Regions from separate parts of the Homo sapiens genome. Here region 2 is reported to be linked to region 1. Evidence: microRNA targets listed by miRTarBase, many of them from high-throughput screens and not tested one by one. Region 1 holds a microRNA gene; the other region holds the end of a gene's coding sequence.
What was found. The annotated mature microRNA hsa-miR-548ac reads CAAAAACCGGCAAUUACUUUUG and lies in region 1 at 2,895-2,916, shown strand. An mRNA with a match to its seed (bases 2 to 7 or 8) in the 3' UTR can be bound and repressed. Matches are read on the target gene's strand: a 7mer-m8 pairs with bases 2 to 8, a 7mer-A1 pairs with bases 2 to 7 and ends in A, and an 8mer does both.

Region 1 (4,279 bases):
AATAAGTTAAGATTTTGAGGGACTGTTGGAAGGGCATTATTGTGTTTTGAAATGTGAGGACATGAGATTTGGGAGGGGCCGGGGTGGAATGATATGGTTTGGCTGTGTCCCCACCCAAATCTCACCTTGAATTGTAATAATCCCCGTGTGTCAAGGGCAGGGCCAGGTGGAGATAATTGAATCATGAGGGCAGTTTCCTCTATACTGTTCTTGTGATAGTGAATAAGTCTCACAAGATCTGATGGTTTCATAAAGGGGAGTTCCCCTGCACACGCTCTCTCTTGCCTGCCACCATTAAGACATGACTTTGCTTCTCCTTTGCCTTCTGCCATGATTGTGAGGTTTCCCTGGCCATGTGGAACTGTGAGTCCATTGAGCCTCTTTCCTTGATAAATTACCCAGTCTCATGTATGTCATTATTAGCAGTGCGAGAATGGACTAATACACCCCATCTCTACAAAAAGTTAGCCAGGTGTGGTGGTGCACGCCTGTAGTCCCAGCTACTCAGGAGGCTGAGATGAGCCTGGCAATTGCTTGAGTCTGGGAATTTGAGGCTGCAGTGAGCCATGATGACACAACTGCATTCCAGCCTGGGTAACAGAGCAAAAAAATAAAAAATAAAAAGGTAGGAACTATTTTATTATTAACAGAGTCTGTCTTATTCTGCTGTTGTTGACATTTTACAGATCCTTTATTGCCAACTATCTGCATAACTAGATTTTAAGTTCCTTGTATGCAGAAGTCATGTATTATTTTTTAAAATTTTCCTTATATTGATCTGTTTTTTTTTAATAGTAAAGATTGTTGAATCTGAACATTAGATGACAATGTATTTGTCCAGCATTTCTCCATTTGAAATTATCTCACATTATTATGTGAGACTTGTTCATGTGCTTTGCTGGAGTTGAGACTTAGACAGTCTGTGTTTTTTTATTTAGCAAAGATAATCCAAGTTAAAATAGTGTTGTGTGTTCCTATAGGAAAACTAGGCCCAGTGTTATAACAGAGTGTAAGTAATAATAGCCACTAGGAGGTAAGTACCTGCTCTGTGCCAGGAGCTATGCTTCAGATTTGAGATGTTTTTATTTAATTGTCACACTGATTTTATTACATAGGGAACATTTAATAGGAGAACAAAGCTTAGGTAGGTTCAGTAATGTGTCCAAGTTCACACAGCAAATAAGTGGCAGAGTGAACTTGAACTTTGATTCTCTCTGAATCAGAACCTATTCCTTTATATGCTCTGTTGTATCCCTAGCCTGAGATCCACTAAGCAACTTTTTGAAGATGAGTACTACTGATTTCTTATATCCAACATGTATACATTGTCCAATGAAATTCTGCTAAAACATGGGAAATATAGGTCAGCACAATTACCAGTCATGCAAAATTGTATTTAATATCATAATTTGTAATGGTGAGGGGTGCTTCTTTGGGACATAGAATTTACAATGGCAATTTATTGACATATTTATTATTAACATTATTATATTTACATTCTCTAGGTACCCACATTTCACTCCTAGACACTTTTGCATAATCTCAATAACATCATAACATCTATAAATATTAACACTAATCCTGTAACATCACCTAACTTTTACCCGTATTCAGATTTCCCCACTTGTCACAAGAGTGTCTTTTGTTAAAAAACCCGGATCTAATCAAGTTTCACTCATTGTATTCGTTGCTATGTTTTTTTGTTTTAATTTTGATGGGCATCTTTCAGAAGTTTTAAAATAGTCTTAGAACCTCTTTTTAAGAACCAGATTTGAATAATTTATTTTATTGACCTCCTTGTCACTCTAACATTTCTTTAGTAAATACAGGCTTTGAGGGTAGGTATTGGTTTCTCTGTTTAAAAGTAGAAACTTTGCATAAATCAGCCCTTATATGTGTAAGTTTTCTGCCTTTTGGTTTCTTCTCATGCTGTTTCTGCACAAGTGCCTAAGCTTTTTTGAAGCTTTACTTGAGGGGTGACCAGAAGGTTTTACTTAAGGACACAGACCCTTAAATTCTGCAATGACAAATCTCAACTTCCATCTCAGGGTTGTAAGTGAAACCAGGATGCAGCCGTTTCTCTTTTCTCAGATAAGTTCAGGTTTGAATATAAAGTGTGACTATAAGATACAGAGACTGTCCCTAGAAAAGGAGGGGAAAACATTTTAGCAGTTCCTCTTTGGAGATAACTTTCAGTGCCTGCCCATCAGCCTCCAAGGAAAATGCTTTTTGGTTACTTTATAGGTTCTAGTGAACTTTGCTTACTTTACAATGTTCCCCAAAATGTCTGTTGAGATTAGTGCCTGAATTTCCACTGGGCTGACCAGTCTGTAGTTTCTTGAACATTTTCTTCCTATGCCAGTTAAAAATTAGAAGAAAATTGAAGTTTAACATACACATTCAGAAAAAAATAAAAAATCAGATTAATAAGAAACTAATGAGGCTGTGCCATTGTAAACTACTTGCAATAGAGTTTCCCAACGATGAACTGAGTATCTAGAAAATAACAAGGATTCTCAAGGAATTTTAGTGAAATGATCAGTACTGTATTGAAATACCTTGAATCAGACTTTGGAGAATAGATTTAAAAACACTCACAGCCTTAACCGATCTAGTAAGAACCTTATTCCCTAAAGCATACTGTGGATCTCAGCTGTATCCTATCTAAGGTGAGAACAGTCAAAGACAAATGTGGCCTTTGAGAAAGGTGGGATGTGAGTGTCTTGAAACAACAGGCTAAAGAAGTGCTCTCAAATAGAAGTATAATATGGAACATGTGAAATTAATTTTAATAATATATTTTAGTTAACCTAATATATCCATAATATTTTCATTTCGACATGTATTAGGTTGGTGCAAAAGTTATTGTGGTTTTTGCTATTTTTTTTTAATGGCAAAAACCGGCAATTACTTTTGCACTAACCTAGTAGTTACTACAAAAAAATATTAACAAGAGATTTTATGTTCCACTTTTTAATACCAGGTCTTCAGATTCTGGTGTGTATTTGATACTCAGAACACATCTCCATTTGAACTAACCATATTTCAGGTTCTCACTAGCCACTTGTAGCTGGTAGCTACTTTGATGGATTGCATAGGTCTAAAGGGAAACATCTTGAGAAAGAAGAAATAGGTTAAGTGCAAGAACAAGAATTAAAAAGGAAACTATTTTAGCATCATATTAGAAGGAAAGTACAGAAAGAAGTTGATTTAGAGAACCAACATCTTAATTCTTGATGAACTTATCGAGGAGGCAGATTGACAGCTGAGAGCAAGGTCCGGGAACCTTGCTCTGGCCTTGGGGACCGAGGGTTTGTAACCGTTGGGAGACAGGTGGCTGCAGTTTCAGTATGAAGTAGATGAGGGCAGGGAAACTGGTGGTGGTGTGGCTGAAATCAGTAAATCTCTGTCTTAAGGAAATAAGAGAAGTCACTAACTGGGACCGGCTAAGGGTGGAATCGATCAGGAAAAAAGAGGAATGGCCCCAACCAAGGCATCTGATGTTCTGGCCAACAGTGCAGGCTCTGGGGCCGACTGCCTGTGTCTGGACACCAGCTCTGCCCCTTGCTAGCTGAGTGAATGCAGTCAGCTGACCCTCTCAGTCCATTTCTTCATCTGTAGCCTGGTGCTTCGGAATCTTTGACCTTCTCTATCAACCAAGTGTCCAGCGGAGCAAACCACCTTACTTTGATAGGCGTGTTCTCAAGAAATAACTCCTTTCTCACTCTCACCCCAGATGTTCTTAGGCTCGCTCCCCTGCTTTTCTGGACTCTGCTCAGATGCCAACTTATGACTGCCCCCCATGCCATCCAACTCCTTTCCTTACCAGTACTCCTCAGCCCCCACACTCTGCTTTATTTTTCTCTATAGCACTTAACATCATCCAACATCATCCAAATAAAAGATATTTACTTTTTCATTTATTATGTTCTTCCCTCCACTGAAAAATAGACTCCAAGAGGGCTGGGATTTTGTCTGTTTTGTTCATTGCTATATCCTGCCTGCTTATTTCAGTGTCTGGCACATAGGCAGGACTCCATGAACATTTGATGAACAAATAAATGAATAATAAGAACTACCTCAGAGTTGAGTTGAGGATTAAATGAGTTAATACACAAACAGCTCTTGGAACAAGTGCTTGTCACATAGTAAGCCTGCAGTGAATCTTCGTGCTGCTGCTACTGTTAAATATTATTACTGAGGCTGAGCTGGCCTAGGGCTCCTTGGATTGGACTTGCTAAGAGCTAGGCAAGAGTCACAACTGTATGAAACTTGATTG
Region 2 (4,000 bases), not on the chromosome of region 1:
TGAAGGCAATGACCTCACCTTTACAAAGTTATTGTAACACGAAACTTAACATGGAGCGCCCATGACCTGGCCAAAGTTTTATTACATGTTAATTCTCTTTTCCTTCTTTTGCATAAATGATTTCTACACCCGGCTATTGGGAGGCTGCAGATTGCACCATTTTTGTGGGTTTGCTTACCAGCATTTGTGCCCCCTTGTGGTGGCAATGAGGTTAATTAAGCATTGCCAGGAAAGTGGAGAACCATAAACATTCCAGTTCTGGGCAATGTTGCTATGCAAATCTCTATTCTGAAATTTGTGAGTTAGCAGGGGCAGCCTCAGTGGTCAGGATTCTGCACTCAATCCTGTGAAATCCACCTCCCTAGAAAATGAGACCGCTCATATCTCCTCTGTGTAATTATTTGATTATGTAAAATATCTACTTGGTTTAATAACCATAATACAAAATTCCTTTGGAAGGAAGAATCAAATATTAAATCTGAGATGACTGTGAGCATTGAAGTGTGGATTTTTGTCTAAAGAAATAAGCCCAAATATCAATTGTGTTTCCGAAGGTAAAGATGGGCTGAAGCTTACACAGAGCACTGTTTGCCGCTAACCTCTACCATTCTCTCTCCATCCAGGTTCACTACAAAGCACTTGAACGATGAATCAACTTCCAAACAGATTCGAGCAATGCTTCAGTAGAGCTCTGCTCAAAGAAGAGGATCTATGTGCTGACCTCAGAAGATGTATATGTTTACATAATTTAATACAGATTGATGTTAATACTTGTGTATTTACATAACCGTTTCCTTCTTGTCACTGAAATATATGGACCTTAATTTGTATCCTGACTGACTCAACCCAGCAGAGCATAAATTGACTTGAGAGCCTTACCTTTGATGTCTGAAATGAAACCCCCTTCTCCAAAGGCAAAATTCGGAGACTTTGATCTTTGCTACTGGAGTCCTTTAACAACATCTATAACGATAAAAAATTCCTAATTGTTTGTGGTAGTATTTTAATTCTAGATGTGTTATCTCTCTGGGAAGTATAGTTTATAGAAACACAAAATATTTGATTTCCTGTGTCGGCTCAGCTACAAGAAACACAACTGTTATCTTGACAGAGGAAGAGAGGAATCCAAGAAAAATGCATGTGGAGAATTAAACCCAAGTGTTTCGAATTCAGCACACCCCCTCTCTGTCCTCAGACTGCAGTCCACACGTGCAACTTTTCTGTTTGCACGTGTTTTATTAATCAGCATACTCCTTTTCTGTTTGGATTTATATCCCTCTAATGTTCTCCTTTAATTTCACATGAAAAAAAAATCTCCTGTATTTTTTTCAGTTAGTGGGAGAGCAGCAGAAATAGATAGATGTGCTGTTGCCACTGGACTGATGAAGGTGGCTGTCTTGGAACTGGGAGACAGGTCCTCAGAGGTGCACTCAGGCAACAGGACAGCCATCTCTCTGCTTCAGCCCTCTGCCTACAGGGATTAGGGAAATGGAGCTCTGGCTTTGAAGTTATTTGTGAGTTTAGCAACCTTCCAGTTACCTGCAGAGTTCTGGGTGCACAGCCACCCCTCATAAGAGCCCTGTTCTCTGAAGACCATTCATATGAGAACAAAGGTCTAGGATACTGCATTAGTTACCAGAAAACTAGGGGAATTTAGAGGGAAAAAAAATCCATGTTTTCTATTTCCCAGGTTTTTAAAAAGTAGCTCTTCCCCAACCCCGTTGCTAGCTTGTTGCAATATAAAAGCCCTGGTGCACCTGAATTTACTCCTGGCCTTACTAATGATTCATAATGTGATCTTGAGAAATGTGTTTAAGCTTTCTGAGTCTTAACCTCCTTGTCTCTAAAATGGGCAATTAAAACAATCTTCAAGAGCCCTGTAAGGTTAATGCCGATAAAATGACTGACTCCGCCCTTCTTCCTTAGTACGTAGTATCCAGCAAGCATTTGCCCCACCTTGTCTTGTTGATGAACAATATTATGAAGCCTGCAGTCATTCTCTCTGTACATCAGAGCTTAGTTCGAATGGAATCATGAAAATCTCTGATTCTGACCTCCTAAGGAAAAATGAAACCCAGAGGATGTGGTCATACAGGATGGCTCCCATGTGGGCCTAGAACCCAGGATGCTTCACTCTTGACTCCATGCTCTTCCTTTTATACCATGTGGCTGTGAATACATACTATGGGATGGGATTCAACCCTTCTAAGTAAATCCTCAGTCTGGTCTATATTGTTACTTGCCTGTTTCCACTAGAAGGAGTCACCCAGGCATTTAGTGAATGATAATCCTAGAAGTTGAGTCTGAGTACATCAGAGTTTGGCATTATTTGCAACATCCCAGGAATGAGCTATAAGACTCCATTGCTTTCTGGACTTTAGTGACCAGCTGATCTTCCCTTGGATCCTCCAATAAAGGGGAAAAAATACTTGTCTTATGTTGTTTTAGCAAGGGAGTTCAGCCAAGTGACAGGAAAGATTCCCTGGTCTGCATCTAAACATTAGTCAACAGAAGGAAAAGGCTCTTTTCCTTGGAGATTTTCAAGTTGAAAAAGTACAGCTGCTTGGATGGAGTTTCTCTCATCAGAATAGAAATATGCTAGGTGGTCTTCAAGACCTTTTTGAACCTACAGATTCTAAACCTTAGAGGAAGCCAGAATATGTGATCATACCAGGTGAGGAAAGTTAGGAGATATTCATCTTAAGAGATATCCTATTTGGCAGTCACATGTTACACTTGAGCAACAATTGTCTAGGCTAGAAATATAGAACCACACAATATTTATCATCATTGGGTCAATTTCTCCCCCTCTATCAAGTGAGGAGATTAAGGCTTAAAGAAAGGAAAGGACTTGCCAGCCACCACAGGGCTCATGAGGGGCTTGAACCCATGTCGTGTGTCTCTACCACAGCTGACTCTCAGCTGGCTAATGGAGAAAATGTGAGGAATTACCTGTCAAATTAGATTGAGCTCAGAGTAAATAGATGAGCACATTTATAACTCTAAATTAGACTTTCTATCAAATGGGACCAAACATATGGAAGGGGCTGCTGTCCTGCCTCAATTTAGCCAAGACTTGTCTTGTCTCAAAGCCAAGACTCAGCAGTACATGGATTCTGAGAAGTCCAGGGTCTGAATTGTTGTCTCTGATTACTGGAAGGACAGGTTAACTGAATGTCTGTGATCACTAACAGGTGATGGGCTTTGTGCCCACTCCAGAGATATTGTGGGAGACAAATTCTTTTAACAGCCTGTCCTCCCGGCATCAGGAGTCATTGAACAATCATGGATTGTTGTGTTTGGGATTTTTTTTTTTTTGGCTTTGTTTTTGGTTTTTGTGTGTGTGTGTGTGTGCTGCATGCACATGCGTCCAAGACTTACGGGTGGTTTAGGGGAAAGTGCTAGCAACAGTGTCAATGTCATTGTTAACTATATTTCATATTTGAGGTCTCATTGTTTTCAAATAAACAGTGTTTTCCATGACTGAGATATTTATTTTTGGGAAAGCAACGAGGTAAAAATTATGTTTCTCAGATGCACTGCTACTTTGGCGTTATTACTGTGTTCTCAGAAACTCGTTGTGCACCACTAGGAATTAGTAGTAGAAAAAAAAAAACAATAACAAAAAAAAAAAACAACTGGAAATGGATGTCTTCACATTAGGGGTGGAGTATTAACAACCAGAAAGAAAGTTTGGATATTACCTTTTAACTACTAGTTAACATCATGCTTGATCAACATTTGCTCCTAGTTATCACCATTAAATTAAGACCTTAATGGTAAACTGAGGTTACTGATGCATCATCACATTTAAGTAAAAATAATTTCATGTTTTCCCCAAAGAAAAATTAAGCCTCCCAATCTTAGGATCCAATTGTGCAGTAGAATTCAGAGACTTCTCATTCAATCTTGTATCCTATGCAGCTACAAATATTTTTTAAATGTTAGTAATAAACATTGGAATTTTGTCTTAAAGAGTTCAAAACCTTGGAACCCAGTT

Region 2: the mRNA of CYRIA is a reported target of hsa-miR-548ac. Seed matches in the 3' UTR shown: 8mer at 1,690-1,697 and 7mer-m8 at 3,331-3,337.

The regions. Positions count from the first base shown.
Region 1 is chr1:116,558,675-116,562,953 of GRCh38, reverse strand. MIR548AC (microRNA 548ac) reads left to right here and starts at 2,843; the gene lies at 2,843-2,930. All of the region lies in intron 1 of CD58 (CD58 molecule), which reads left to right. LOC105378925 (a long non-coding RNA gene) reads right to left here. Exons shown (of 3, transcript XR_947739.2): 3 at 1,767-4,279. RefSeq lists enhancers at 287-436, 3,036-3,275.
Region 2 is chr2:16,549,623-16,553,622 of GRCh38, reverse strand. CYRIA (CYFIP related Rac1 interactor A) reads left to right here. Exons shown (of 12, transcript NM_030797.4): 12 at 624-4,000. The coding sequence ends at 687. Among named protein-coding and RNA genes, the nearest start is that of CYRIA, 110 kb to the left of the region's middle.